Regions from separate parts of the Homo sapiens genome. Here region 1 is linked to region 2. The links come from fine-mapping of genetic effects on gene expression. A gene starts in region 2. The other region holds a variant in brackets. All regions are shown on one strand. Distances are from middle to middle.

The links. PIP is the estimated chance that this variant, and not a neighbour inherited with it, causes the effect.
Region 1: its variant is fine-mapped to the expression of RHPN1-AS1 in whole blood (TOPMed, PIP above 0.99). The same link has a PIP of 0.9 or more in blood mononuclear cells.

Annotation. Positions count from the first base shown.
Region 1 is chr8:143,336,986-143,350,049 of GRCh38, forward strand. It overlaps a transcript of TOP1MT not described here. Among named protein-coding and RNA genes, the nearest start is that of TOP1MT, 8.6 kb to the left of the region's middle. RefSeq lists an enhancer at 2,152-2,889. The variant T/C (reference allele first, on the strand shown) is at 4,821.
Region 2 is chr8:143,359,216-143,374,664 of GRCh38, forward strand. RHPN1-AS1 (RHPN1 antisense RNA 1) reads right to left here and starts at 9,420. Exons shown (of 1, transcript NR_026785.1): 1 at 7,408-9,420. RHPN1 (rhophilin Rho GTPase binding protein 1) reads left to right here and starts at 9,661. Exons shown (of 15, transcript NM_052924.3): 1 at 9,661-9,832. The coding sequence starts at 9,773. It also overlaps a transcript of TOP1MT not described here. RefSeq lists enhancers at 8,619-9,174, 9,915-10,822, 10,823-11,729 and silencers at 9,338-9,407, 9,418-9,877, 10,078-10,127.

The sequences.
Region 1 (13,064 bases), 23 kb before region 2:
AAAAATAAAATACTGCACAATAAATTTAACAAAGGAAGTATCAAGCTTATACTCTGAAAACTGTAAAACATTGCCCAAAGAAATTAAAGACAGCCTAAATAAATGAGCAGCCATCCCATGTTCACGGACTGGATGATTTCATATGGTTAAGACAGCATTGGCCAGGTGCAGTGGCTCACGCCTGTAATCCCAGCACTTTGGGAGGCCGAGACGGGCGGATCACGAGGTCAGATCGAGACCATCCTGGCTAAAACGTCTCTACTAAAAAAATTAGCCTGGCATGATAGCAGGCGCCTGTAGTCCCAGCTATTTGGGAGGCTGAGGCAGGAGAATGGCGTGAACCCAGGAGGCAGAGCTTGCAGTGAGCCGAGATCACGCTACTACACTCCAGCGTGGGCAACAGAGCAAGACTCCGTCTCAAAAAAAAAGACGGCAATACTCCCCAAACTGATCCAAAAACTCAATACAATCCCCATCTAAATTCCAGCTGGCGTTTTTACAGAAATTGACAACCTGATCCTAAAATTCACAGGGAAATACAAGGGACCCAGAATAGCCAAAACAATGTTTGAAAAAGAATAACAAAGTTGGAGGATTCATACTTGCTGATTTCAAAACTTCAAAACTGGCCCAGGGAACACAGCAAGACCCCATCTGTACTAAAGATTTTTAAATTAGCCAGGCATGATGGTGTACACCTGTAGTAAGGGAGGAGACCACCTCTCATATTGTCTTCTGCCTAATTTCTGCCTCAAAGAAAAGAAAAAGTAGGAGTTAAAGAAAAGGCAGAAGTGAAATTCAATAGTCAAACAGCCCGGCGCCACACCCCAGGCCTGGTAGTTAAAGATCGGCCCGGACCTAATCGCTTCTGTTATCTACAGATTCCAGACTTCTTATGAGGAAGCATTGCGTAACTCCCTGTTTGGTTCTGTTCTGATCACCGGTGCATGCGGCCCCAGTTACGTAGCCCCCACTTGCACAATGTATCACGGCCCTTTCACATGGACCCCTTAGAGTTGTAAGCCCTTAAAAGGGACAGGAATCTGGACCTCGGGGAGCCCGGATCTTGAGAGGCGATTCTACTGATGCTCCCAGCTGATTAAAACCTCTTATTCCCTAAAACCGGTGTCCGAGAGGTTTTGTCTGCAACGTGTCCTGCTACAGTAGTCCTAGCTACTCAGGGGGCTGAGTGGGAGGATTGCTTGAACCCAGGAGTTCAAGACTGCAGTGAGCTATGATCAGGCTACTGCACTCCAGCCTGAACAACAGGCTCCATCTCTTAAAAAAAAATTTTTTTTTTGGCTGGGCTTGGTGGCTCACGCCTGTAATCTCAGCACTTTGGGAGGCCAAGGCGGGCGGATCACCTGAGGTCGGGAGTTCAGGACCAGCCTGACCAACATGGAGAAACCCCGTCTCTACTAAAAATTCAAAATTAGCTAGGCGTGGTGGCTCATGCCTGTAATCCCAGCTACTCGGGAGGCTGAAACAGGAGAATCACTTGAACCCGGGAGGTGGAGGCTGTGGTGAGCTGAGATCGCACCATTGCACTCCAGCCTGGGCAACAAAATGAGACTCCGTCTCAAAAAAAAAAAAATGTTAATTTTAAAAAGGGGGATAAATAATCTAAATAGACATTTCTCCAAAGATGAGATATAAAAGGCCAACAATCCTGTAAAAAGATGCTCAAAATCATCAGCCATGGGAGAAATGCAAATCCAACCCACAGTGAGGTCACCTCACACCTGGGTGGCTGCAGTCAACATGCTGGGGAGGGCGTGGAAAAGTGGCACCCACTGCACAAGGCCAGAGACACAGTTGGGGAGTCTGGGCCTGCAGACCAGAAGGGGTTTCTATGAACTGTCTGCCAATATTCCTGGGGTTGGCGGCCTCCTCCCCTTGTGCCCTCTTCTTCCCCAGGCCACTCAGGGGTTGCCCAAGGGAGCGGGGACAGGGCTTCACGCACTCTTCCTCACAGCAGGTAGGAGGACCCCTGTTTTGCATGAGAGAAACTAGGCTTAGAAAATTTAAAGAATTTCCCCAGAATCAAACAGGTGCTGAATGCAGGAGCTGATACCTATAAAGACGTTTCCCACCCAGAAGCCGGAGCTCCAAGGCTATGCAGGGACTGCCCAGGTGGGAGGCGGCGCCGCCCAGCAGACACAGCTGCGAGCAGTGGTGGAGTTTACCCCATCCAGAAGCCACACTGCAAAAGAAACAGTGACTTTGACCTTAACAATATACTTAATTTCAACTATTTCAACCAAAATACTGTCATTCAACATAATATGCTAATGCGATGGTATGCATCGTTCTTCTCAAAGCAGGCGTGCGTATCACACCCCCAGCACGTCTCCACTGGGAGAGCTGCGCAGCTCGTGGCTGCGTACAGGACACAGCAGGGGTGACGGCTACAACTGCAGTGTGGCCCACTTGTGGCCATGTGACCTTGGCCCGGTTACTTAACCTTTTTGTACCTCAGTTTCCTCATCTGAAAAATGGACATAGCAGTACCTACTTCATAGAGGACTGACCAAAAGCAATGCCAGACACACAGCAAACACTCACTTACTGCTGGCTGCTCCCAGTACCCTACAACCCACAGCTCAAAGCTGCCGATGCAAGAGGGCACTCTGGGGGGCACCCAGGCTCCCTGGCAACCTACAGTGGGCAGGCAAAGGCCAGCACTGTAGCATTCCCACATTCCCAGCACTGGTCTACACAGCACTCCCCGCCTCCCCCACCAGGGACAGGGAGGGGAAGTGGGCCTGTGCTGGTCTAAACTGCATTCCCCTGCTCCCAGCGCTGATCTACACAGCATTCCACCCCTGCCAGCACTGGTCTACACAGCATTCCCCCCGTCCCAGCACTGGTCTACACAGCATTCCCCCACTCCCAGCACTGGTCTACACAGCATTCCCCCCGTCCCAGCACTGGTCTACACAGCATTACCCCACTCCCAGCACTGGTCTACACAGCATTCCCCCGTCCCAGCACTGGTCTACACAGCATTCCCCCACTCCCAGCACTGGTCTACACAGCATTCCCCCGTCCCAGCACTGGTCTACACAGCATTCCCCCGTCCCAGCACTGGTCTACACAGCATTCCCCCACTCCCAGCACTGGTCTACACAGCATTCCCCCACTCCCAGCACTGGTCTACACAGCATTCCCCCACTCCCAGCACTGGTCTACACAGCATTCCCCCACTCCCAGCACTGGTCTACACAGCATTCCCCCCCTCCCAGCACTGGTCTACACAGCATTCCCACACTCCCAGCACTGGTCTACACAGCATTCCCCCCTCCCAGCACCGGTCTGCACAGCATTCCCCCCCTCCCAGCACTGGTCTACACAGCATTCCCACCACCCCGTCAGGACATGGAGGGAGAGAAGGGGTGGGGTAGGGTACACACCATTTCCACCTGCTGCCTTCGGCCTTCTCCCACCCTTTCTGGCTCTCCTCCTGTGGCTTAGCTGCCTCCTGGCCATCTTTCTTCTCTCCCTCTGGACACCCCAGCATCAACTGGCTCCCCCTCCTTCCACTTCTCTCTGCTTCTGGCTGGCTTCCGGCTGCCCTGAGCTTTCTCTTCTTGGGGCTTCTTCACCAGGCCCCCCACCTCCCAGTCACCCTTTGCCCCAGGGCAATGGCGAGGCCACGCCGCTGGCTGTGGTGCCCCGTCCAGCTCACTCCCACACTGCACTTCTCTGTCTTCCTCCAGGTCCTGAGCTTTTCATTTCTTTGGTTTTCGAGTCCCCTCTTCCCCAGCTTTGTCTGTCTCCCTCTTCTTTTCTTTTCTGGAAACCAAGGCCTCCTGTCCCACTTTTGTGCCACTACCTAATTTGTCACTTTCTTCTTTCTTGGTTTTTCCCACCCACACTTCTTTTACATCCTCGTCCTCGTTCTGTGCTTGTCTCCTGGCCCGTAACTCTCCTTTCTGCTCAGTGTGGCCCTGGCTCGTCCTCCGTGCTGGGGTGGGCACCATGCCCTCACTGTGCACCTGCTCCTGGCCACGCTTCGCACCTCTTCTGTGGGAACTGCTCTGTCTATCCCACTGCCCAGAGCGCGCTCCTCCCCAGCTCCCACGGCGGCCCCTGCACTCTTCCGCTCCCCACAGCTGAGGGTCTCAGGCTTGCCCCTAGCGTCCCCGCCACCCTCTTCTCGTGCTGCCGCCCCAGTGCATCTCCCCACACGTTTGTCCTGAAGCCCTTTCTCCCCTTTCTCTTCGGATATTCTTTTTTTTTTCTCAGTTTGTGCCTCTCTTCCACACAGCCCTTGCCCCGGCCAGTGTCTGTGAGCTCACAGTCCAGGTCCTCTTCCAGAGCCCCCTTCCGGCTGGGCACCGCCTGCAGGGCCATGCCCTTCTATCTCTTCTCTTGGGTGTCAGGACCCCGGGCACATCCACCAAGGGCCATCTTCATCTTGTCTGCAGGAACCTCCGTGTGGCCTTGGGACCTTGCCCAGAACAGAGAGCACACACCATGAGAGGGGCCACAGGGCCACAAACATACCCACCCGGAGACCCCAGAGGAGGAGGGAAGGTTCACCTTCCCCACCCCAGCAATGGCTGCCCTCCATGGGCCTAACAGATGCTTTTAACTCAGCTTTGGAAAATGGCCTCTTGATCTCAGCCCTTGTGGCCTCTGTCAGGAGCAGAAACCAAGGGCAATGAACAAAGGAGCCAGGGGTCAGCTTGGGGCTGCTCCCAACTCCGGAGCAGGTGCAGGCCGCAACAGGCCATACTGCCAGCGTCCACCCTGACCCAGACACAAAACACCAGAAAGGGAAGGTCACAGAGCACTATCCCGACACCACTGCCCCA[T/C]CTAGTGCTTCCTTCTTCCTTCTTCTTCCTCTTCTTCCTCCTCCTCCTCCTTCCTCTTTCTCCTCCCCCTTCTTCTTCTTCTTATTAGCGACAGAGTCTCACTCTGTTATTATTATTATTATTGAGACAGAGTCTCGCTCTGTTATTATTATTATTAGAGACAGAGTCTCGCTGTTATTATTATTATTAGAGACAGAGTCTCGCTCTGTTATTATATTAGAGACAGAGTCTCGCTGTTATTATTATTATTAGAGACAGAGTCTCGCTCTGTTATTATTATTATTAGAGTCTCGCTCTGTTATTATTATTAGAGACACAGTCTCGCTCTGTTATTATTATTATTATTAGAGACAGAGTCTCGCTCTGTTATTATTAGAGACAGTCTCGCTGTTATTATTATTATTAGAGACAGAGTCTCGCTCTATTATTATTATTATTAGAGACAGAGTCTCGCTCTGTTATTATTATTATTAGAGACAGAGTCTCGCTGTTATTATTATTATTATTAGAGACAGAGTCTCGCTGTTATTATTATTATTAGAGACAGAGTCTCGCTCTGTTATTATTATTAGAGACAGAGCCTCGCTGTTATTATTATTATTATTAGAGACAGAGTCTCGCTCTGTTATTATTATTATTATTAGAGACAGAGTCTCGCTCTGTTATTATTATTATTATTAGAGACAGAGTCTCGCTGTTATTATTATTATTATTAGAGACAGAGTCTCGCTCTGTTATTATTATTATTATTAGAGACAGAGTCTCGCTCTGTTATTATTATTATTAGAGACAGAGTCTCGCTGTTATTATTATTATTATTAGAGACAGTCTCGCTCTATTATTATTATTATTATTAGAGACAGTCTCGCTCTATTATTATTATTATTATTAGAGACAGAGTCTCGCTGTTATTATTATTATTAGAGACAGAGTCTCGCTCTGTTATTATTATTAGAGACAGAGTCTTGCTCTATTATTATTATTATTATTATTATTAGAGACAGAGTCTCGCTCTGTCACCCAGGCTGGAGTGCAGTGGCGTGATCTCGGCTCACTGCAACCTCTGCCTCCCGGGTTCAAGCGATTCTCCTGCCTCAGCCTCCCGACCACCACACCCGGCTAATTTTGTATTTTTAGTAGAGAGGGGGTTTCATCATGTTGGACAGGCTGGTCTCAAATTCCTGACCTCAGGTGACCCACCCACCTCCGCCTCCCAAAGTGCTAGGATTATAGGCATGAGCCACCACGCCTGGCCTGCTAACTTATTTCACCATAAAATCTTAGAAGAAAATCAGACACTAAGTTCATTTGTGTTGTCATATCTGCAAGAATAAGCATTCATCAGGCATGAGTGCCTGGGAAGTTGCTTATCAGAATCATGTTCACACATTCATTTCCTATTTAAGATGCCGACTTGGCCTTTTTTCTTGGGTGGCTTTTCATGGTGATTAGTCTTCACTGGCGTGGTGATCTGTGCAAATCTAGAATTCAAATGTATACATAAACATGCAGCTCTGCGGCTCATTTAGGGTTGCCATTCTAACAACAGAGAGTCAGAACAACCTCATGGAAGCCTCCCAAGCTCTTCATGACCCTTTTCTCATTTTTCAAAAGTACACCTGGCAAAGCTGCTGGTGACCCACGTGCTGGGCATCAAGGAACCTCTGACTCTGAGCACAGCACCAGCTGGCGGTGGGAAGTCCCGCCCGAGGCCAGAAGCTGCGAACACATCTCAGGCCCCTCCCGGCCTCGGGAAGAGTGGGCAGGCAGTAAAAGGCAGCTCCCAGGTCCCCTCTGGGACCATCTCTGTCCCCACCAACACCACAGCAGTTCAGAGATCATCAATTTGGAAAAACAGTCTTTCCAAAGTAACTTTTGAAGAAGAAGTGTGAGAAAATATATTCAGAAACAAAACCCACATTGAACAGAGAGAGGAACAGACACTTCGCTTAAGTGGGAATGGCACGGGGCCCACCTCGGGCTGCACGCTGGGTCAGAGGCGCCATCCCTGGGAACCCCGAGGAGGTTATGGGGGCACCAGGCACCCCGGTCTGAACGCTCCCACTCATCGGCTGACTGGCCACCCTCACCCACACCTCACACTATGGCTGCTCTCACTCCACCATCTGACCATCACAACACACGCCCACATCCATGCAGACTGGAGACACAGTGAAACACGCGTCTTGCAAGGAAAAACCTGTGAGATTTCTGAAAATCATGTTAGAGCCCTACTGAGGCAGAGGCCTGGGCCAGCCGAGAAAGGTGAGAGGAGGCCCTGTTGTAACACAGCTGGAAAGCAGGATTCATAGATGGATTTCATGTGGAATCTAGGCCCTCAAGGATGGGGCCCTCAAAGATGACACCAAGGTCTGTGCTTGAGAAGACAGAAGGAGCCGCTTCACCGAAACGAGAGGACTAGGGAGGGAAGGGCAGCAGACACCCACGGTCCTCTCAGGATGTGCTGACTGCAGAGGCCTAGAGTCCCACAGGGAAGCCGTGGGAGGCCCCCTCTGCCCCAGCCCAGCTCAGCCCTCCTGCTTGAGGAAGAAGGAGTGGCGGGACACCAGAGGGACAGGCTAGGAAGCACTCAGTAGCAGTGGCAGGAGCTCAGGAGGCTTTGGGCTGGCCCTGAGACACCACCACCCACTGGCCAGCAGCAGCTGGTCCTCCAGGTCTCCGTGACTCCCCCAGCCCCATGCCCACCCAGGATACAAAGGCAAGCCTCCCCACTCCCCAGCCACTCCCTTACTCAGTGAGGACCCAGGGCTGCTCACTGTGCCACCCGCCCGCCGCGCAGCACCATTCCCCAGCTACAGGGACAGCTGATGGTCACACAGACCCCACAGCGATCTCTGTCACTCCCAGACGCCCCCTCCCCAGTAACCCCTGTTGTGGGGGTGTAGACGGAGAGGCGCAGACACTGTCCTGTCAACAAGCCAGGCTCCATGTTGTCCGTAAGTCCAGGGCCCAGCACCTAAGGGTGATTAACTGGCAAGGACACCAAACAGCGGAGGAGGAGGGACCTCAGCTGAGCGAGATGAGCGACAGTGAACAAGGCCAGGCAGGAGACAGAATGGATGGGCGTCAAGGGAGGAGCCACCCAGCACCTGGAGAGCAGCTGTGGTCACAGGCACGAATTCATCACAGCCACAGTCATCAGCACGGGCTGCAGTCTGGGGTAGAAAAATCAGAAGGAAGGAAACGTTAAAGTTTTAAGCAATAAGAGACCCAGGGGCCGTGTTAAAAGGTAACTCATTCTCTACCTCATCCCAACTCAATGACACAATCCTGGCTCCACCTGGGCCAGCACAGGGGCTTGTAAAAGAGTATGCATGGGAGACTCCCCATAGACAGGTCCCAGTCCCCGGACACAGACACGTACCACACTGCAGGCACCAGCCAGTCCTTCCCGAGGAGCTTACCCTCACTGGGCAGAGCCACGCACTGAGGGGCAGAGCCCACAAGCCCACTGGCAGCCGAGGTCACCCCCATGCCTGACCTGGCAGAGCCCTGCAGGAGGCAGGTCCACAGGGCATCCCTGGTGGCTGAAAAGGTCTGAACCAGCACTGGGCACAGGAGCCCAGCAATGCCAGCCCGAGGCGTCTGCTGGTCTCCGGAGGACACAGTTGCAAACTCGACACAGACACAGAGAAGCAGGCTGGCCCCTCCAGCTCCTGCTGCCACGCGCGGCTGGGAGGTGTCACTCACACCCCACGTGGAACAGGGCCTCTCGGGCTATACTCCCACACCTCTGGCTGGCACTTCAGCAGAGAGTTTTTCACTGTTTTAAATTAAAATACAGATAAGGCTTGCATTAATTTAGTAGAAAAGTTTAGCGCCAACTCAGGGCTTTCATAAATTATAGAAGAATACATTACATAGTACCAGAACACAGAGAAGAGATAAAGTAATTCACACTTAAACTATACTGATGAAGTCAGTCATCAGTAAAATGGCAAAATCCAAATCATCGACACTTTTTCTAAATTGAAGTCCCACAAAGCATTTACTATTGCATTGCTTTTCAAACAAACCGTTATCTAACAACCCACTGTTAATGGGGTAGACTGTGGAGGGTCTGATTCTGCCCTATCAGCACATCCGCAGGAAACACCTGCAGAAATCATCACCAGGGAGATGCCGGGGGCAGGGGTGATGGTCGAGTGTGTGTGGACATGTCTGTATTCTGAGTGTGGCAGTGGCTTTCCAGAGGGACACTTCTGCCACAACTCATCCAATGGTCACTGTCAACGAGTACAGTTTATCACGTGTAGATAATGTGTCTGTAAAGTTCACTTCTCACAAAGTGCTCCTGTGTGACTCCAGAGCCCAGGAGAATGGGAAGCTCTTCTGGCTCTTGGCCAAGGGTTTGTTTCACCTCCAGAACAGCTCCGAAGGCAATGCCAGGCCTCCTGAAGCTCAGGAGTGAAGAGGAAATGCCAGGTTCCTAAATATGAGGCTGCTCCAAACTCCTTACAGGCAGTGCAGGAACAGAACACCCAAAGGGGTTATCTTCATAGAGCACTTTTACCACCCAACTAATGGGATATTGAGACACCCAGAAACTTAGTTCTTGGACCAGGCATTGCCCCTCAAATTTGCTTTCCCTTGCCAAGATCTCACAAAATGATTTTTTAAAAAAAGATATATTTTAAACAAACAAAGCAGCACAAGAGAATAAGAAAGGGGGCTGTGCTGGGTATAGCAGCATGCTTGTAGTCCCAGCTACTCGGGAGGCTGACATGGGAGGATCACTAGAGCCCGGGAACTGGAAGCCAGCCTGGGCAACACAGCAAGACCTCATCTTAAAAAAGAGAAAAAGAGAAGGAAGGGGGATGTATTTTAGTCCATTTTCTGCTGCTGTAACAAATAGCACAGACTGGGCAATTTATAAAGAACACAAATTTATCTGGCTCACCAGAGGCTGGGAAGGCCAAAATCAAGAAGCTGCATCTGGCAAGGACCTTCTTGCTGCATTACCCCAGGGGCAGAAGATGAACTAGCGCACAGGTCAGAGGGAGGACACTAAGCAAAATCACGATTTTGATCAGGAACCAACTCCCATGGTAAGAAATCTACTCTCAAGATAACAACATTGTCCACTTATGAGGGTAGAGCCAAATCACTTTTCAAAAGCCTCACTTCTTTATTTATTTATTTATTTATTTATTTATTTATTTATTTATTTATTTTGAGAGATGGAGTCTCACTCTGTGGACAGGCTGGAGTGCAGTGGTGTGATCTTGGCTCACTGCAACCTCCGCCTCCCAGGTTCAAGCGATTCTCCTGCCTCAGTCTCCCAAGCAGCTGGGATTACAGGCATACGCCACCACACCCGGCTAATTTTTGTTTTGTTTTGTTTTTGAGATGGAGTCTCACTCTGTCGCCCAGGCTGGGGTGCAGTGGCGCGATCTCTGCTCACTGCAAGTTCTGCCTCCTGGGTTCACGCCGTTCTACTGCCTCAGCCTCCCAAGTAGCTGGGACTACAGGTGCCCGCCACCATGCCCAACAAACTTTTTTGTATTTTTAGTAGAGACAGGGTTTCACCATGTTAGCCAGGATGGTCTTGATCTCCTGACCTCGTGATCCGCCCGCCTTGGCCTCCCAGAGTGCTGGGATTACAGGCATGAGCCACCGCACCCAGCTAATTTTTGTATTTTTTAGTAGAGACGGGGTTTCACTATATGTTGGCCAGGCTGGTCTTGAACTCCTGACCTCAAGTGATCCACCTGCCTCGGCCTCCCAAAGTGCTAGAATTATAGGCGTGCCTGGCCAGGCCTCACCTCTTAAAAGTAGTTACTATTTAGTATTAAGTATTACAAATGGCAACTAAATTGCAACCTGAGTTTTAGAAGGAACATTGAAACCACAGCAGGCAGGCAGCCAGCCAGCCAGCCAGCCAGCCAGCCAGCCAGCCAGCCAGCGGGGAAGAGTTGAAACAATCCAGGAACTTTATAAAGCACAATGGGAGAGAGGGCAGAGCCACCCTCAGTCCAAGGTGGGCTGTGCGGGACCACCGCTTTGAGCCCCACAGCAGGCCAGGCCTCGAAGCTCAGGCACCGAGGTGAGGACGGGTACCTGGAGCTCAGCAGGCTCCTCTGTGACGCAGCTGTAGCAGCCAGGGGTCTCCCCACGCTGAGGAGGGTGAGGAGGGGTGGCTGCCATGGAGGGTGCCCAGGAGATGTGGGGCCTGACCAGGGCCTCCACATCCCACAGCAGCCTTGCAAGCCAGAGGGGACCTCCACCCAGGGCCTCCTTCTGTGCTAAGAGTGGAGTTCCTGGAGTTGGAAAGTCCTGCCGCCTAAGCCCTACCACCCTGGAGAGGCCCCACTCAGGACAAAGCCCACTGGTAAACCCAGGCCCGCCCCATCCAGAGATACTCCCACCAGCTCCCTGCTCCAAAGTCCCTCAGTCATTGTCACAAATAGTGAGCAGCAGACATGTGAGAAAATCACAAGAAAATGTCCACACAGAGGACAGCACAAGGGGTGGTAAGACCATGAGACCACCTGGGGCAACAAGAGAATTGATAGAAAACCCAGTCACGGCTTTGAAAGGGCCCAGGACTTCATGCCCTGAGCCGCAGCTACGGCTCAAGACTCCATGTGACCCTGTGGCCCTTCTGTCCCACACTCACCTGACAGACACCCCCCACCGACCTCCCCCACAAGCCCAGCTGTGTAGCCTGTTAATCCTGCCATGTAAAGGGGTGCCCTGCAGGGGTGTGGCAGGAGGGTCCTAAGAAGACCAGCATATTTCATCCTGTGTCACTCTTGTACTCACTGAGAGCTGGGGGGTGGGGGGGGGTGGGGGCCCTCCAGGTGGGCCTGATCTAGCCCCATGCGCCGCTGAAAAGCAGTTTCCTCCAGGTGGTGACAGGGAGAGTCAGAGACTGGATTCAGGTGCCTCTGCAGGCTGTGAGGATGAAGGGCCAAATGGAGGGGCATGGAGAATGGACGCCAGCTGACAGCCAGCCAGAAAACGGCCCTTGGTCCCACAGCTACAGGGACTGACCCAACTCCCAGGAGCCTGGTGCCCTGAGGCAGGAGCCCAGCCCGGCCAGCGTACCCCGACTCAGCACACCCCAACTCACCCTAAGCTGAGAATCCTGCCAAACCCACTTGAGCATCTGACCTACAGAACTGTGAGCTATGACCAGGCATTGCTTATTGCCTGCACAGAATGCTCGTAGCTGGCTTAGAGGGCAGAACCGCGGTCTCCAGGGCAGCAGCCAAATCACCTGAGGATCCTCTCCTCAGGAGGCAGGTTCTCAGCTCCTCACCACAAAACTACCCACCAGAGACCAACAGGCGGGCCATGAGCCTCTTCTGTTTAATGTTTCATTAGAGAAAATCTCAAGCACACACAAACAGAGAGAGAACGGCTTATGAAAACTCATTATACAAATTGAGCTTTTCCTACCACACCCAACCAAATCAGAGTCGAGGGACCCAGGAAAAGCTCTCAGGCACACGGCACCTGCTCCCAGAGCCCCCCTCCCACCCCCCTGCCCCCTGCAAGTCTAGCTGCTGAAATGACCTGCTGCAACCTTACAACCGGGTGTACCTAATGGCTGTTGGAACAACCTACCTGACCCAAAGACTAGGTTTACCTACTGTGTCTTTCACCAATCTGAGCTTGCCAGCTCCCCAAAACTTCATTAGTGCCAATGTGTTTTCTTTCAAAACAATAGGTAACATTTCTCTTTCCAATAAACCCCCCAGCATGCTCTTCGTTCTTGGGACCAAAGACCACTCTGGTCTGTGTGTATGCCTGAATTGCAATTCTGTTTTTCCCAATAAAACATTTTGTTTAGAGATTCATCTGTACACTTTTTTTTTTTTTCTGTTGAGACAGAGTCTTGCTCTGTCACCCAGGTTGGAGTGCAGTGGCATGATTTCGGCTCACTGCAACCTCTGCCTCGTGGGTTCAAGTAATTCTTCTGCCTCAGCCTCCCGAGTAGCTGGAACTACAGGCACTCACCACCACGCCCAGATAATTTTTGTATTTTTAGTAGAAACAGGGTTTCGCCATGTTGGCCAGGCTGGTCTCGAACTCCTGACCTCAATTGATCTGCCCACCTCAGCCTCCTAAAGTGCTGGGATTACAGGCACGAGCCACCGTGCTGGGCCTCATCTGTGTATTTTCATTTGAGTCTGACAAGTATTAATACACTCCCACAACCCCATTACACCAATTCAAAACTTATCAGCTCACATCCCATCTCCTTCCATTGAGTGC
Region 2 (15,449 bases):
TATGGCTTTAGATGCGCCAGACCAAAAGAAAAAAAAACAGCTGCAAACCTGAGGTGTTACAAGGTGGCTGCCAGCAAAGCGATCCAGGAGAAGGGAGGCAGGTCACCACGCCAGGAGAAGAGAAGGGCAGGGAAAAGGCCAACTCCGGGAAGAAAGGCCCTGGGGCAAAGCGCATCCAAAGCCGTCACTCTGGGGCAGAAGACAGAGCGGAATCCCATCAGCGACGGCCGTTTCCAGACCCTTTTCCTAGGCAGCCAGACCGGCACCGCTGGCCAGGTGCAGGGCCCAAGCAGAAAGTCAGGAGCCAAGGGAGCGATGAGGAGGGGTGGGGCAGCCAGGGGAGAGGACACCGAGCGGGAGGGGTAAGCGAAGGGGGAAGAGAACAAGGGGGCCTGGAGGGGGGACACAAAAGGAGGGCCCATGGAGATGGAGGAAACACTGAGGGGTGAAGCACACGGAGGGGGGACACAGAGGAGGAGGGGACACGTTGGTGGCGTCGTGCGCGGAGGGGGAGGTACACGGAGGAGTCGCGGAGAGGCGAGGGATGTGGGAGGTCGTCACCAACAGCGCGACCTGGGTCACCCACAGGAAGAGGGCCACTGAGGGCCCCGCCTGACCCCTCCCTCCTGGTGGCCCTGCGCCCTCAGGCCGAGTCCCACCTCCTCTGCAGCTCTTCCAGGACCCACGCGGTCCCACCGCACCACGGCTCCCCCGGACCCCGCTTCCCCGAGGCCTGCGCGGAGACGCCGGGAAGGCCCGAGCCCGCGCATGCGCAGCCGCCGCCACGTGCCTGCCTTGACGCCGCCGGTGCTGCCGGGAAGGGGGCGGGCTGCGCAGGCGCGGGAGAGGCCCACGCGGTGGCCACGCGGGGCGTCCGGTGGCTGCGCTCGGTTGGGCCCCTGGGCTCGCGCGCTCCGTGGGCCGCGGTGCTGACGGGCACCCAGGAGGTGGGGTGGGAGGCGGCCGGCCGGGGTGGAGGGGCGTTCCTGGGCCGACGTGCTGTTGGCTTCCGCGACGTGGTGGAGTCTCGCCAGTCCCTGCAGCGCTTCTGCGACTCTGAAGATAAAGAGGATCGTATTTTGAGAAAAGCTCATGGAGCAAGGAGCTCAAGGAGCAAGGCCTGAGGTGCAAGCTGTCACCGGGTCGCATCTGCTTAGCAGCCTGCACATTGCTAGCGAGAGTCTCCACTCAGCCTGAACATAGTGCTTGGGAGGAGGAGGGCCGCCAGGCCACACCCGTGGGGTGCAGGATGCGCCATGTCGGGGTCCGTGAGTCTGGGGTGACGTGAGATCCCAGAGGCTGAGTCTGGAAAATTGAGCGGATGTGGCCGCGGTAGCAGAATGGACGAAGGCCTCCAGGCCGAGAGGGAGCTCTGTGTACAAGGGCACGGCAAGTGGCCACCGGTGGCCAGTGTGGAGTACGGCTCCCTCCAAAGCAGGCTCTTCCTGCAGGTATTTTATCCGGGAGGTGGACTCAGGAAGCACAGGTAAGGGAGTAGGGAAGTACACGTGTTGGGGAGCAGGTGAGAGCCGGGGCCCCTGGACTAGTCCTCCTGGAGGCCTCTGGGAGAGCACAGGACACAGTTCCGAGTGGGTTTGCTCTGGTTTTGAGGGGCCATCCTTGCCGCCCCACCTCTGCCAACTGCACTTCCAGCAAGCCCCGGGCATAGGCCAGCACCCCTAAGCACTGAGAAAAGCGCTCAGGCAGGAAGTTGCAGGTGCTGGGGGCGGGGGGGCGTTGGGGTGCATGGGAAAGGCAGGGTGCTGAGAGCGTCAGCCGCACTGCATGTGTGTGCGTGGTGGGGCTGGGGAAGGGCTGGCGCGTGTTGACACGATGGTGCGGGCACCGGGGAGCACCACCCCCACATGATCCCCTGTATGTTGCAGAGAGATGATGGCACCAGTGGGCACACTGCTCGCAGGTCAGGAGGAAACAGGGCTTGGTCAGGCCAGAGACAGTAGGAGCCTAAACCGCAGGCCTGCAGAGGTTGAGGGGAGGTGTCTGATAATTAGTAGGGTGTGGAAATGAGAATGAGCGAGTTGAGGATGGTGCCCAGGCTTCTAGTTTGGGTGGTCCGGTGAGTGGCGCTGTCTTCTGGCCCTAAAGCCCTGTCACGGTAAGGAGAACTGCCTGGAAAACGTACACTTGGGGAAGACAGAAGAGGTTATTACAAACACTCCTTCACTTTACAACTTGGCTATTTTGTGATAAGTTTTAGTGCATTTATTTGAGTTTATTAAAGATGCCATGTTACTGCCTTCTTAACAAATGGACATAGGCAGATAGCTGTTTTCCTGTTGTGGTGAGTAATGGCCAGGAGAGGCAGCCTTCTGTGGAGCAGGCACCGCAGAACCTTTGCATGCAGATGGCATCTCCTCTACAATGGCGCCGGGGTTGCTAGAGCCACAGACGCTGAGCTTATTTTACTCAGAAAGCCACAGAAACAATAACCAAAAAAGGATACTATGAAGGCAGCATAGATCATATGCTTTTTAAAAAGCCCATCGTCAGCATCAGTGACAACACCATTACCGCTCAGTCACCGAGATTAAAAATTAGTCACACGTGGAAAATAGAAACAGGTTTTCAGGGAGAAGAAGGTTTTGATTCCACTGAATAATGCTCCCTCTTTTGCTTGGTAAATAGATGATCCATATTTCCTGATGATGTACATTTTCGAGGGTAGCTATGCCTAGGTGGTCTCAGATTTGGGGAAAAAGCCTTGGCCTCAGTTGACTGGGAAGGGCTCAAAAACTATAAATTGTATCCAAAAATGTCTGACAACAAGGTATTCAGTAATGACATCAGAGACTCCATCCAGACTGAATCTAGATTAGGTCACAAATGATTAACAGTCCTTGGAATTAAGAACTTTTATCTTGGCCGGGTGTGGTGGCTCATGCCTGTAATCCCGGCACTTTGGGAGACGGAGGCAGGCGGATCACTAGAGGCCAGGAGTTTGAGACCAGCCTGGGCAACATGGTGAGACCCTGTCTCTACTAAAAATACAAAAATTAGCCAGGTGTGGTGGCGCGTGCCTATGATCCCAGCTACTCGGGAGGCTGAGGCGGGAGAATCTCTTGAGCCCAGGAGACGGAGGTTGCTATGAGCCAAGATCGCAACACTGCACTCCAGTCTGGACGACAAAGCAAGACTCCGTCTCTTTTTTTTTTTTTTTTTTTTTTTTTTTGAGACGGAGTCTCATTCTGTCACCAGGCTGGAGTGCAGTGGCGCGATCTCGGCTCACTACAATCTCTGCCTCCCGGGTTACATACCACCACACCCAGCTAATTTTTTGTATTTCAGTAGAGACGCAGTTTCACCACGTTGGCCAGGATGGTCTCGATCTCCTGATCTCGTGATCTGCCCGCCTCAGCCTCCCAAAGTGCTGGGATTACAGGCGTGAGCCATGATGCCCGGCCGCAAGACTCCGTCTCAAAATTAAATAAAATATTTTTAAAAAAGAACGTTTTTCTTGTGTGCATCACAATACTTCAGCGAGACACAATCCTCATCTGAGCCACCACGGGGCTGGCCCTTGCCCCTCTCCTTCCCTTTAAGCCCTGGTCCAGCCCAGCCTTCGGTCTTCTGAGCCTCCATGTACCTCGGCTGGGCCCCGGCCCCTGTCCTCAGCCCGTCCTGCCCGCTTCCCCTCCCTGGCCACTCTGGGCAGAGGCCTTGCTTCCTGTGTCACTGACACCTGGGGACAATCCACAGAGGTACCCCACACTCCCAACACGGCATCTGTCCCGCCTGTGCCCCCCACCCACCAAACCTCTGCTCCCCTCCATCTTCTCTCCTGTTACCGTGGTTGAACACTTCACGCCCCCTATTAAGTGCCAGCCACCCATCAGCCCTCCCCTGGCCCCACAAACAGTACTGCACCTGTCCTCAGAATTCAAATGTGCCCACTCCCTATGGCCGTCTCTGCTCTTCTGACTCACCTTAATCCCCGTTGAAGCACTCTCATTCTTTGGCTGGGTGCAGTGGCTCATGCCTGTAATCTCAACACTTTCATGAGGCTGGCGGATCACTTGAGCCCAGGAGTTCGAGACCAGCCTAGGCAATATGGGGAGACCCTGTCTCTACAAAAAATACAAAAATGAGCCAGGCATGGTTTCTCATGCCTGTAATCCCAGCTGCTTGGGAGGCTGAGGCAGGAGGATTGTTTGAGCCCAGGAGTTCAAGACTGCAGTGAGCTGTGATCACACCACTGCACTCCAGCCTGGGCAACAGAATGAGACAGCCTGTCTCAAAAAGAAAAGGTCTCACTCTCAAAGCCCCCTGAGACCACTTCCAACAGGGTCTCCACCAGCCTCCTCCACTCTTGGCAGCCTGGTCTTGCTGTCAATGGCGCAGGATGGCGCATGTGTTGGTCACTGGCTTCCCTTGGAACTGGTTCCTCCCTGAGCTCCTGGGGGCCACCTGACCCTGTTTCTGTTGCCCTCCTCCTTGGGCCCACTGTCGTGAACTATCCTGGCACTCTGTCCCCAGCAACTGTATAGCAAAGACGTCTACAGTGTGGACCTTGGCCTCCAGCCTGGCCCCTGAGCTGGAGACTCGGCAGCCTTCAGGACCCTTCCCCTGAGCTGTGTGAGAGAAGCTCCAGCCCAGCATCCCAAACCCAAGGCTCTGCCTGCCGAAACCTCCTCCTCCCAAACCGTCCCCGTATGGTGGTCACACCAGCCATCTCTGAGCTGCCAAGGCCAAAACAGTGTCGGAGTCCTCTACACCTCTTCCTCCCACCGCCCCGTGGAACCCACCGGCAACCCTCACACACGTTCCAGTATCACTGCTCTATGGCGGTGGGCTCTGCACCAGGCTGGACCACAGAAGGCCATGGTCGCTTCAGTTGTATAAAACACGCCACAGGTGCATCCAGCTGCTGGGATCAGTGCCAGTAAGTGCCCACTGCAGAAACCCAGTGTGCTGTGCCCGGGGCACCCTCACCAAGGCACTGTCCTAAGAATGAAACTGGCAACCAGAGGAAAGTCCACAGCAGGCCACTCTGCCACATTCCAAGGACAATCATGTGTTCCCCTTCCCCATATCCTTTTCTTTTTATTTGCCAGAAAAGTGCAGTTCTCCAGAAGCCAGCAGGCCAACCATGGGCGTCTCCCTCCCTCCCTCCCTAAGCACACTCAGCACCCAGGAGGGACATGAGCACCCACAGCCTGGGAAGGTCCCTCAGCGGCCGGGAGGGACATAAGCACACACAGCCCGGGAAGGTCCCAGAGCAGGCTGGGTGCTCCTTGCTTACGGAGGCCCCACCAGGGCCTGGCAGGGCACCCAGAAGATGAGGGCTTTAAAGAGCTCTCTTTGTCCCCATGTGGCTCCTTCTACCATGCTCCCGGCAAGCTAATGTTCTCAGTGGCTCTTTTTTTTTTTTAACAACTCTTATTTTCAAATAAGAATAAATATGTGTGTCTGTTCTCTGGGGGTTTAGGCAGCCCCGAGCTGACCCTGTGACTGGGGAGGGATTGATGGCCCCGTCTCACCGGGAAGCCAGGTGCATCTTTTACTAAAGGTGGTTTCTGAATGATGAATGGCTTTCTCACGAACATAACACTGTTGATTGTATTTACAAACAATTCATTTTCACGTTCTGTTGATTCTGCCCCAGCCGTCCCTCCTGTTGCCTCCACAGATGATGCATTGGTGGCTATTACCACCATTGATGAAGGCGTCCTGCTCGCCCTGTGGTACCTGTTACTCCATTCATCACAGTTGAGCAGCCTGCGTGCAGCGGGAGAGCGTGTTCTCTTCGGGCCTTGCAGTTATTTATCCTTGAATTTGTGTGGGTTTGTGCACCTCTAAATACAGGTGCAAACCCACACTCCAAGATCTTAACAGGCGCAACAGTGGCCAAAATACACGGCCAGTTAAATTCTTGGGGTTTAGCCAGTCCCCCAAAGCCCACCTCTTCCACTCCACATTCTAAAAAAATACCGATGCGCATAAACAGTGTCAGCAACCTCCACTAATTAAGGCTTCCAACCAGAAGGAAAGCTGAAGTAAGTACCAGCGATCAGCATCAAATCATCAACTTTTAGGGCTGACCTAAAAGACCCCAAGCCTGAATGCCCCAGCACCCACTGGGCAAGGGGCAGCCAGTCCCCAGCATGGCCTAATCCAGGCCAAGCAGGAAATTTCTGGAATCAGCTGCTTTTTCCACATTTCTCTATCTAGACCCCCTCCTCCTGGCTGCCTCTCTGGTTCAGTGGTGGCGTTCCCCTGAGCTTGACCGGGCTCTGCAGATGGGCTGGCATGCATGGAAGAAGCTGGCGCTGTGAGGAGTCCTGGCTTCCCGCTCACAGCCATTGGGCCTTGGGTGAGTCAGTCAGTCTCTCCAGACCTTGAGGTCTTCACCCAGGACATGTGGAGGCTCAGAAAGGAGCCCAGGTTCCTGCCCATCTGGAAAATCTGCATGTTCCTGGTTGCAGCAAGAGTCTGCCAGGCTCACACTTGCAAAGTACTGGTCCATATAAAAGCATAAAGCAGGCCAGGCACAGCGGCTCACACCTGTAATCCCAGCACTTTGGGAGGCCAAGGTGGGCCAATTGCTTGAGCCCAGAGTTTGAGACAAGCCTGGGCAACATAGCGAGACCCCATCTCTACAAAAAATACAAAAGTTATCTGGATGTGGTGGCGCATGCAAGCGGTCCCTGCTACTTGGGAGACCGAGGTGGGAGGATTGCCTGAGCCTAGGAGGTTGAGGCTGCAGTGAAGTGAGCTGTGATCACACCACTGCACTCCAGCCTGGGCGACAGAGAGCCACCCTGTCTCAAAAAAAAAAAAAAAGGCCAGTCACAGTGGCTCACACCTATAATCCCAACACTTTGGGAGGCCAAGGCAGGCAGATCACTGGAGCTCAGAAGTTCAAGACCAGCCTGGGCAACAGGGCGAAACCCTGTCTCAATTTTTTTTTCTTTATAAATTACAAAAGAGAAAACGAGCATAAAGCAGCCCCATCAGCAATTATCACCTCATCTGCAAAAGGTCCCGGCGCTCACTGCCGTGCCCCTCCCGCCGCTGTCCAGTTCCCTGCCTGTCACACCAAAATTCTCCTCTACTTTCTCACCTCCCATCCTTTCATTTTTCCCCCTAAATTTTTAAACTTCAGAAGTGCACAATACACATGTAACAAACCCACACATGTACCTCCAAATCTAAAATAATTTAAAAAAACAAAAAGGAAACTCTAAATTTTTTGAGTGCAGTGATACATTCTTGCTGTGCCAAATCCAGTAACACAGAAGCATGCAAAGAAAAAGGCAGCACCACCCCCCTCCAACACACACACACACACACACACACGCACACACGCACATATGCACGCACACACACGCACACGCACACACGCACACGCACACACTCCAGCCTGGGCGACAAGAGCAAGACTCCATCTCAATAAATAAATAAAGAAAATAGTAATTGAATATTTTCCTTCAGGAAACAGCACCCTGCAGGGAGGGGAAGTCTTATGACCCTCAAAGTTTGAGAGCCTCTCTTAACTTCCCAATGGCCTCTGTCTGCTGAACCAAGAAGCCTGCAAAACAAATACGTAAGAACTGGATACCATTTCAGTCACACATGCTTGCTGACAGTCACTGATATGGTAATGCCTCCTGTACACATAGCTGACTCTGAAGACTGCTAAGAGGGTTTGGGTCTCTGCTGTACAGGACCTTGGCAGCCTGCAAGGAGATGACTCACATGGAAGTCCCCACACAAGTGCACCCAGTGTGAACTTTGGAAGCATCGGCCCATGCTCAGGCCCACAGGTAAGATGGCCAGGAGCCCCTAACCTTGAGGAAACTTGAACCACAGAGCTGCTGGCGAAGGGGGTGGGTGAAGGTCTCATGTAGCCTGTGTGATTCAGGCAGAAGTGAGAAGGACGGGTGGGAACCCACCAAGTGGACGACAAGCTGAAGGGCTCCCAGGGAGCAGACACTTCAAGGGCCCCAAAAGGCCAGGAGAAAGAAAAAAAAAAGCCGGGTATGGTGGCTCATCCCTGTAATCCAGCACTTTTGGGAGGTTGAGGCAGATGAATTGCTTGAGCCCAGAAGTTTGAGACCAGCCTGGGCCTGGGCAATGTGGCGAAACCCTGTCTCTACAAAATATACAAAAATTAGCCGGGTGTGGTGGTGCAAGCCTGTAGTCCCAGCTATTCAGGAGGCTGAGGTGGGAGGATCACATGAGCCCAGGAGGTGGAGGCTGCAGTGAGCTGTGATCGTACCACTGCACTCCGGCCTGGGGAACAGAGTGAGGCCCTGTCTCAAAAGGCCAGGAGTGGAAGACAGGCCCTAGCCAGGAGGTTTCGCGTGGCTGGCAGGGGCCTTATGAGAAGGCTGTTGCTGGGAGGGGCCTGCTGCAGATGGCTGCGGCAGACCACGGAGCTTAGCCTTCAGGATTTAGATCTGGGGATGACAGGCTCCTGTGTGCTTGTTGCGGAGCCGGGAGCACAGGCACCAGAATGATCCCAGGGCTCAGCTCCAAGGCTCCGCTGGGCCTGTGGTGGGGCAGTGAACGTGGACAAGACCTGGGCTTCAGAGGAACTTGATGACCAGGAGCCGTGGTTACCGCCTGTGCCCTGGCCTTCCTGCTCTTCAAAGGGTGTGTTCTGAGCTGAGGCGAGACCCACACGAAATCCGAGCGGGCTCCGGAGTCACCAGACACCTAGGGAAGTATGGAAGGCCCGGAAGGACACACACAGCCGGGTGAGCCCCGCAGGGAGCTGTGCAGTCTCAGGTCGTCCAGTCCTGGGGCTGCAGGCCAGTTCTCCAAGCAGGTGGTCCTGGAGGCAAGCTGGTTTTGAAAGTAGGTTCTGAAAATAGGTCAGTCCAGGAAACAAGCTCTGGAAGTAAAGAGATTCGGAAAGCAGGTTCGTTCTGGAAACAAGTTCTACAAACAGGTAGTTCTGAAAGCACGTGGGTTCCAGAGGCAGGTGCTAGAAGGATGTGGGTTCTGTACGGAGGTTCTGGAGGGAGGCGGGTTCTGGACGGAGGTTCTGGAAGGAGGCGGGTTCTGGAGGCCGGTTTTGGAAGCAGGACGACACCGACAGAGGCGCCTCGGACTGGGGCCAGGCCTGGAGCCTCCGCTCCGCGGGCAGAGAGAAGAAAGCAGGCATTGTCGGAGGACTCACACAAGCACTTGTCCCTAACAAAACCGTTTTTAAAAACCCCATTGTGAACATTTTTGGAACAAGCCTCTTAGAGGGTCCCGTTGCCGGGGTGACAGGACGAAACGGCGCGAGCGGGCAGACTCCTGGAGTCCCCGCAAAGGGAGCCGAGGAGCTAGGCGCGCCGAGTCCAGGTCCGCCCTGACTCTCAGCTTGGGACGTTCCGTATAGTTTTTTTCTCCGTTTCCCGAACTTCTCCCGCACGCTCAGCGGCCGCCGCGGCGCATGCGCAGTACAACCTGCCAGCCAGCCGCGGGCGTTCCGGCCGCGGTTGCCAGGGGTTACCGTCCCGCGGGCGGGCGGAGCTGGCCGTCCAGAGCCCGCCTTCCTGGAACTCTGGTTGGCTGATATAGCTGTCCGTCGAAGCGGCATTGCCGCCTATTGGGCAATGGCCAGCTTCGCACGCCAGACCCGTGCCCCGCCCAGCCGCGCCGCGGGCCGCCCCCACTCAGGAGGGACAGTCGGGGACCGGCGCGGGCACTCAGGAGCCCGCGGCCCAGGTGGTGCGGGCGGCCCTAGCCCGGCTGCGGAGCGCTGCGCGAGCGGCGGGCTGGCTGACCCCGAGGGACCCCCAGCGCAGCGGGTGCGGCGATGATCCTGGAGGAGAGGCCGGACGGCGCGGGCGCCGGCGAGGAGAGCCCGCGGCTGCAGGTGCGCAGAACTGGCGCGGCGGCGGGAGGAGGGGCCCGGAATCCCGGCCTTTTCCTGCCCCCCCTCGAGGCGCGTTCCGGGCGCCCCCCTCCTACGTCTCATTCGGCCCGGACGCAGGCAGGGAAACTGAGGCCAGAGCCTGCGTCCCTCCTCCTCTGAGCTCGGTGGAGGTGCTTCCAGGCCACTCATGTGAGCCGGGAAATGCGGACAGCCAAAGTCTGGATCATCCTCACCGCTGAAGCGGGTTGGGGGGACGCCCTCCTCGTGTCCCCCTTCTGGGCGGATGTGGGGCTGGGCTCTGTGAGCGCCCTCCCCACACCCGCCATCGTGTTCCTTTCCGGCACCTGTACAGCCTCCTTCCCTAGTTCGGTCCTCCCTCTGCATCCGCTCAGGAACTGCATGCCCATTGGGTGCACTGGTAGCAGCGGGCAGCGAAGCCTCCTGGGTATGGGAAACCGAGAGAGGTCTTCCCGGCTGGCCTCTTCTCACTTCCCAAACCTCCTTCCCTTCTGAAGTCCCTAACCCGGGGTGCTGACTGGGCAAGTGGGAGGGGTGGGCAGGGCTGTGGAGACCTGCTGAGTCTGTGCCTGGGAAGGAGGGGACGTCTGTGGGCCTTGCTCTGCAGCCCAGAGCCTGCTTGTTCCCTGCGGACCAGCTCGAGGCTGCCCCAGTCCTCCTGCCAGGCCCTGGGCGCCCACGCCCGCCACGGGCTTTCAGCCGCGGGCTGCTCCTGCTCCTCGCCCCGGGTGAGCCTTTGATAGCGCGCGGCCCTCCTCCCCTCTGGGACGTCAGACTGTGTTGTCCCTGGGCTGGTTCTACTCGGCTTTGGTGTTTGGGGTTAGGTCTCCTAGAGGAGGAGGCGGTGCTATCAGCCAGGGTTTGGCTTCAGGTCACTGGGCTGGTGATGCTGACCGTAGCCCTCAAGGACGCCCTTCTTGCCCACCCCGAGGCGTGCCAGAGGCTGCAGCACCTCCTGGGCACTGGAGGGAAAGAGGCAGCCTGTGCCTGCCCCCTATGAACTTGCTCTGTCAGGGCGGCCATGCCTGCAGGTGGCCTGGGACGGCACATGTTGTTTTGGGTGGAATGTTTGGGAGGCTGTACAAACAAGATGTCCCAGAGGGCTCCGGAGGTGACGCTTTTCAGGCTGGGGGCTGTGCCTGGGCTCCCTGTCCTGGCCCTCCCTGGGCTGCCACCTTGGAAAGTTGGGGAGAAGCTGTTTCCAGGCTGCCGTGTCTCTCACAGCGTCCAGAAATGACCCCACAGTCAGGGTACTGGGGAGGGGCCCGTGGGAGGTGGCAGTGGGGCGGAGGCAGGCCCTGTGTCACACGCGCACCACTCAGGCTGTCCTGCCATCTGGAAAGTCTTCCCCGATGCCTGCTGCCGGGCTAGAGTGAGGCCTGTTCCACCCCCATCAGGCTGGCCCCCAAACTGGCCCTAAAGCTCAGAGTTCAGTGGGTCAGGGGTCGGTCGTTCATCCACTTAGAGGCCACACCTGGGCCTGAGGCCCTGTGGACAGGTCTGGGTGACTTGTATTTGCCCCAGGCGTGATGAGAGCAGGCTTCCAGCAAGCGCTTACCTGGTGCCAGGGCCAGTGCTACAGCTGGAGTCCTGCCATTGGTGCCTCCCAAGCCCTGGGCCTCAGCCCGTCTGATGAACAGGGTGAGTAAGTGGCCAAGGCTGCCAAGCTGGGAAGGGGAGAAGCCTGGCACGGCCCAGGGTGGCCAACCCAGCTGCCGTCCCTCCCGCAGGGGCTGCAGGGGCTCCCGGGGGAGGACCACAAGGAATACAGCCTGGCTGTATGCAGAAGGTTCTGTGGTTTCCTGGGGAGGCCAGTGGGAGAAGGGGGAGCAGGCTGCAGAGGGAGAGCGTTGGAGCAGCAGGTGGGCAGGGTGGCTGTGCCCCCCTCACCTGGTCTCCAGCATGCCGAGTGGGTCAGCCTGAGGTTCCCCAGCCTGGCTGGACAGGAGCACCCTCTGGGTGCTGGTTACAGGTTCCCAGGCCCCTGCCCAGGTAGATTGGGCTCCAGGAAGAGGGGTGCTCAGGAAGCACCAGTGCCTGGGTACCCCAGGGAGCATCAGAGAGAGTGGGAGTCCCTGCCGTGAGTGGCCAGTCTATGATTCCTCTGGCGTGCGTGCTGCTTATAGCCCTGTGTCCCAGGAGACACCTGTGCAGCAATGCCCTTTGAATTCTGTTCCCTCATCAGTGGGGGGCAGAGATGGTGGGTCAGGTGGGTGCTGGGCTTCCACCCTCCTGGGGCTTCCAGTTCTTGCATTCAGGTGAGACTTCAGTGGGGGCAGAGGAGAGGGGTACCTGAGATGGGTGGCTGTCAGCATACAGGGTGCCCAGGGCCAGGGCTCTGAAGGGAAAAAGCTGGTTTGCTCCAGGTGGGTGACCTCTCCCTGGGGACTGCCTGGCCCAGGGCCAGGGGATCCTGGGGGAGAGTGGAGGTCTGGCCCTGCTCTGATGTTTTGCTGTTCCCAGACCTGGGCTGGGATAACTATCTCTGCCTTTTGCCCGTCCCCAGGTCAGCCCCACTCTGGCCAGGGCCACACTGTTTCCTCCTGGGCAGAGGAGCCCCAGTGTCAGGGTTGGGGGGCTGTTTCTCTGTTCTTCGTCCCTCTCCATCGAGGCATGGCCAGGCCCTTCATGTGTGGCTGCCTCTCGGGACCCCCACAGACCACAGCCTCTCTGTCCTTTCCTAATGCAAGGCGGAAATGGCCACAGTGGGGTGTCAGGGCACCGTGGACGTGGGGGTGGGGAGCTCCAGGTCACCTTTGTCTCCAGAGGGTGGGGAGGTTGTAGCAGGAGTAGGGGCCTGAACGCCTGTGTCTATGCCCCTTCCACTGGGCTCAACCTTCAACCCAGTGTGGAAAGTGGGGCATGGGCCGCCCACCTCCAAGGTCTACCCAGCCTCAAAGGTCCGGCTCGGGTCTGCTCCTCCGCCTGTAGGCCGGGAAGTCACTTGGCCTGCAGGGAGCACTGCGGGTAGGGAGGCCGAGGAATGGACCAGGCCCACAGCAGGTGCCTGTGGGGCTCCAAGGGGCCAGGCTCCCCGCAGCTCTCCTGGGGCCAGGAGGGGAGCAGGGACCTGGCTGGGTGTCTGATGCCCGTCGCACAGCCAGAGCCCTTAAAGCTGCTGGAGCCTTGCAGCGGGGCCTTTGCGGGGAGGGGGTGTAGCTGCGGTGGGTGGCACGGGGGTCTCCTAGGTACTGGGCAGAGGCCCTCGAGGTGGTAGCGCCGGTGGGAAAGGTAGGGATGGGAGGCGGGGGTGGGCGGGCCTCAGGTTCAGGGAGCTTCTCAGATCTGAGGCGCCCATGCCCCTCTCCCACCTGTGGGCCTCTCCAGCCCGAGTCCCTGAAGCAGCTCTGGAGGGAATTTCTTTTCTGGAGGAGGCGGGAGTGAGAAACGGGAGCAGGGTGAGGGTTCCCAAGTGCACATCGGCCCGTCCGCTGCTGGGTGGTGTCCACGGGGGCAGGGCTGGGCTGGGGGAGGCCAGGGTCCTGGGCCGGCACACCCTCCTTCCGGCTGCCTGTGTCCCTCCCTCCAGCTGCCTGTGTCCATCCCTCCGGCCGCCTGTGTCCCTCCCTCCGGCCCCTAAGCGCCAACTCATCTTCAGTTCAGGGACCTCCGTCAGGCTCCCTCACCCCAGCACTCAGCAGGAGGCTGCCGGCCTGGGTGTCCAGGGGATGGTGCGGGTGTCCAGCAGACAGTACAGGGGTTTGGGGGATGGTACAGGTGTCTGGGGGATGGCGTGGGTGTCCAGCAGATGGCGCAGGGGTTTGGGGGATGGCACAGGTGTCTGGGGGACAATGCGGGGGTTTGGGGGATGGCGTGGGTTCCAGGGGATGGTGCAGGGGCTTGGGGGATGGTGTGGGTTCCAGGGGACGGTGTGGGGGTTTGGGGATGGCGCGGGTTCCAGGGGACGGTGTGGGGGTTTGGGGATGGCGCGGGTTCCAGGGGATGGTGTGGGGGTTTGGGGATGGCGTGGGTTCCAGGGGACGGTGCGGGGGTTTGGGGATGGCGTGGGTTCCAGGGGACGGTGCGGGGGCTTGGGGGATGGTGTGGGTTCCAGGGGACGGTGTGGGGGTTTGGGGATGGCGTGGGTTCCAGGGGATGGTGCAGGGGCTTGGGGGATGGCGTGGGTTCCAGGGGATGGTGCGGGGGCTTGGGGGATGGTGTGGGTTCCAGGGGACGGTGTGGGGGTTTGGGGATGGCGCGGGTTCCAGGGGATGGTGTGGGGGTTTGGGGATGGCGTGGGTTCCAGGGGACGGTGTGGGGGTTTGGGGATGGCGCGGGTTCCAGGGGACGGGGCGGGGGCTTGGGGGATGGTGTGGGTTCCAGGGGACGGTGTGGGGGTTTGGGGATGGCGTGGGTTCCAGGGGACGGTGTGGGGGTTTGGGGATGGCGCGGGTTCCAGGGGACGGTGTGGGGGTTTGGGGATGGCGCGGGTTCCAGGGGACGGGGCGGGGGCTTGGGGGATGGTGTGGGTTCCAGGGGACGGGGCGGGGATTTGGGGGATGGCGTGGGTTCCAGGGGACGGTGTGGGGGTTTGGGGATGGCGCGGGTTCCAGGGGACGGGGCGGGGATTTGGGGGATGGTGTGGGTTCCAGGGGACGGTGTGGGGGTTTGGGGATGGCGCGGGTTCCAGGGGACGGGGCGGGGATTTGGGGGATGGCGTGGGTTCCAGGGGACGGTGCCTCATCCTCCAGTCTCTGTCTCTGCCTTCCCATGGCCACCTCCATGTGACTGTGTTCAAATTCCCCACCTCGTATAAGGACCCTTGTCACTGCGATTAAGGACCCCCTACTCCAGGGTGGCCTCATCTTAACTCATTATATCTGCAAAGACCCTATTTCTAGAAAAATTGCAGTCACAGGTACTGGGAGTCAGGACTTGAACCTGTCTTTTGTGGGGACACAATTCACCCATAATAGATGGTCACCCGCTCAGCTGGCTGCTGTGATTTTGGGGGGCTGGACGAGCAGGCCTTCTGTCTAGGAAATCAAACCTTTCTTGTATAATGGGAATAAACTAATTAAAATGCACACAAAGATCTCGTTCACATTAGCAAAAAGAACTCTCTCCAGATATCTAGGAGAAAACCCAGGAAAACACGTGTGAGCTCTTTACGGGGAAGACGGGAAGGCCTGAGAGACGTGTGTGCGTGGAGAGGGTGTCGGGTCCACAGAGGGGAAGACCCAGTGCGTGTGCACGTTGGCCCCATGAATCCGCAGCTTCATGCAGTGGTAGGTCAGTTTCATGGTGGCAAGATTCACCTTCAGACGCCACAAGGTCCTGGGGAAGAAGAGGTCCTGTCTCCCGACAAGGGCGGGAAGCAGTCCCAGGAGCCACCAGAGGCCTTGTCTTGCTGCTGACTGGCAGAAATGGCCAGGTTGGCCACGCCTGACTCAGACCAGGCTCGCCCCAGGGCTGGGTGGGAGTCAGTGTCCCTGAGCAGTGAGCCCTGAGCAGCACTGTGGGTCTCAAAGCATGGAAGGAGTGGGTGCTGGAGAGGCAAGCCAGCCAGCCCACGCCTGGGAGCCCACCCAGGGGACAGCCACAGGTAGCTGCAAATAATCTTGTCCGGGTGGAGACCCAGGCATTCCCACATGGCCAC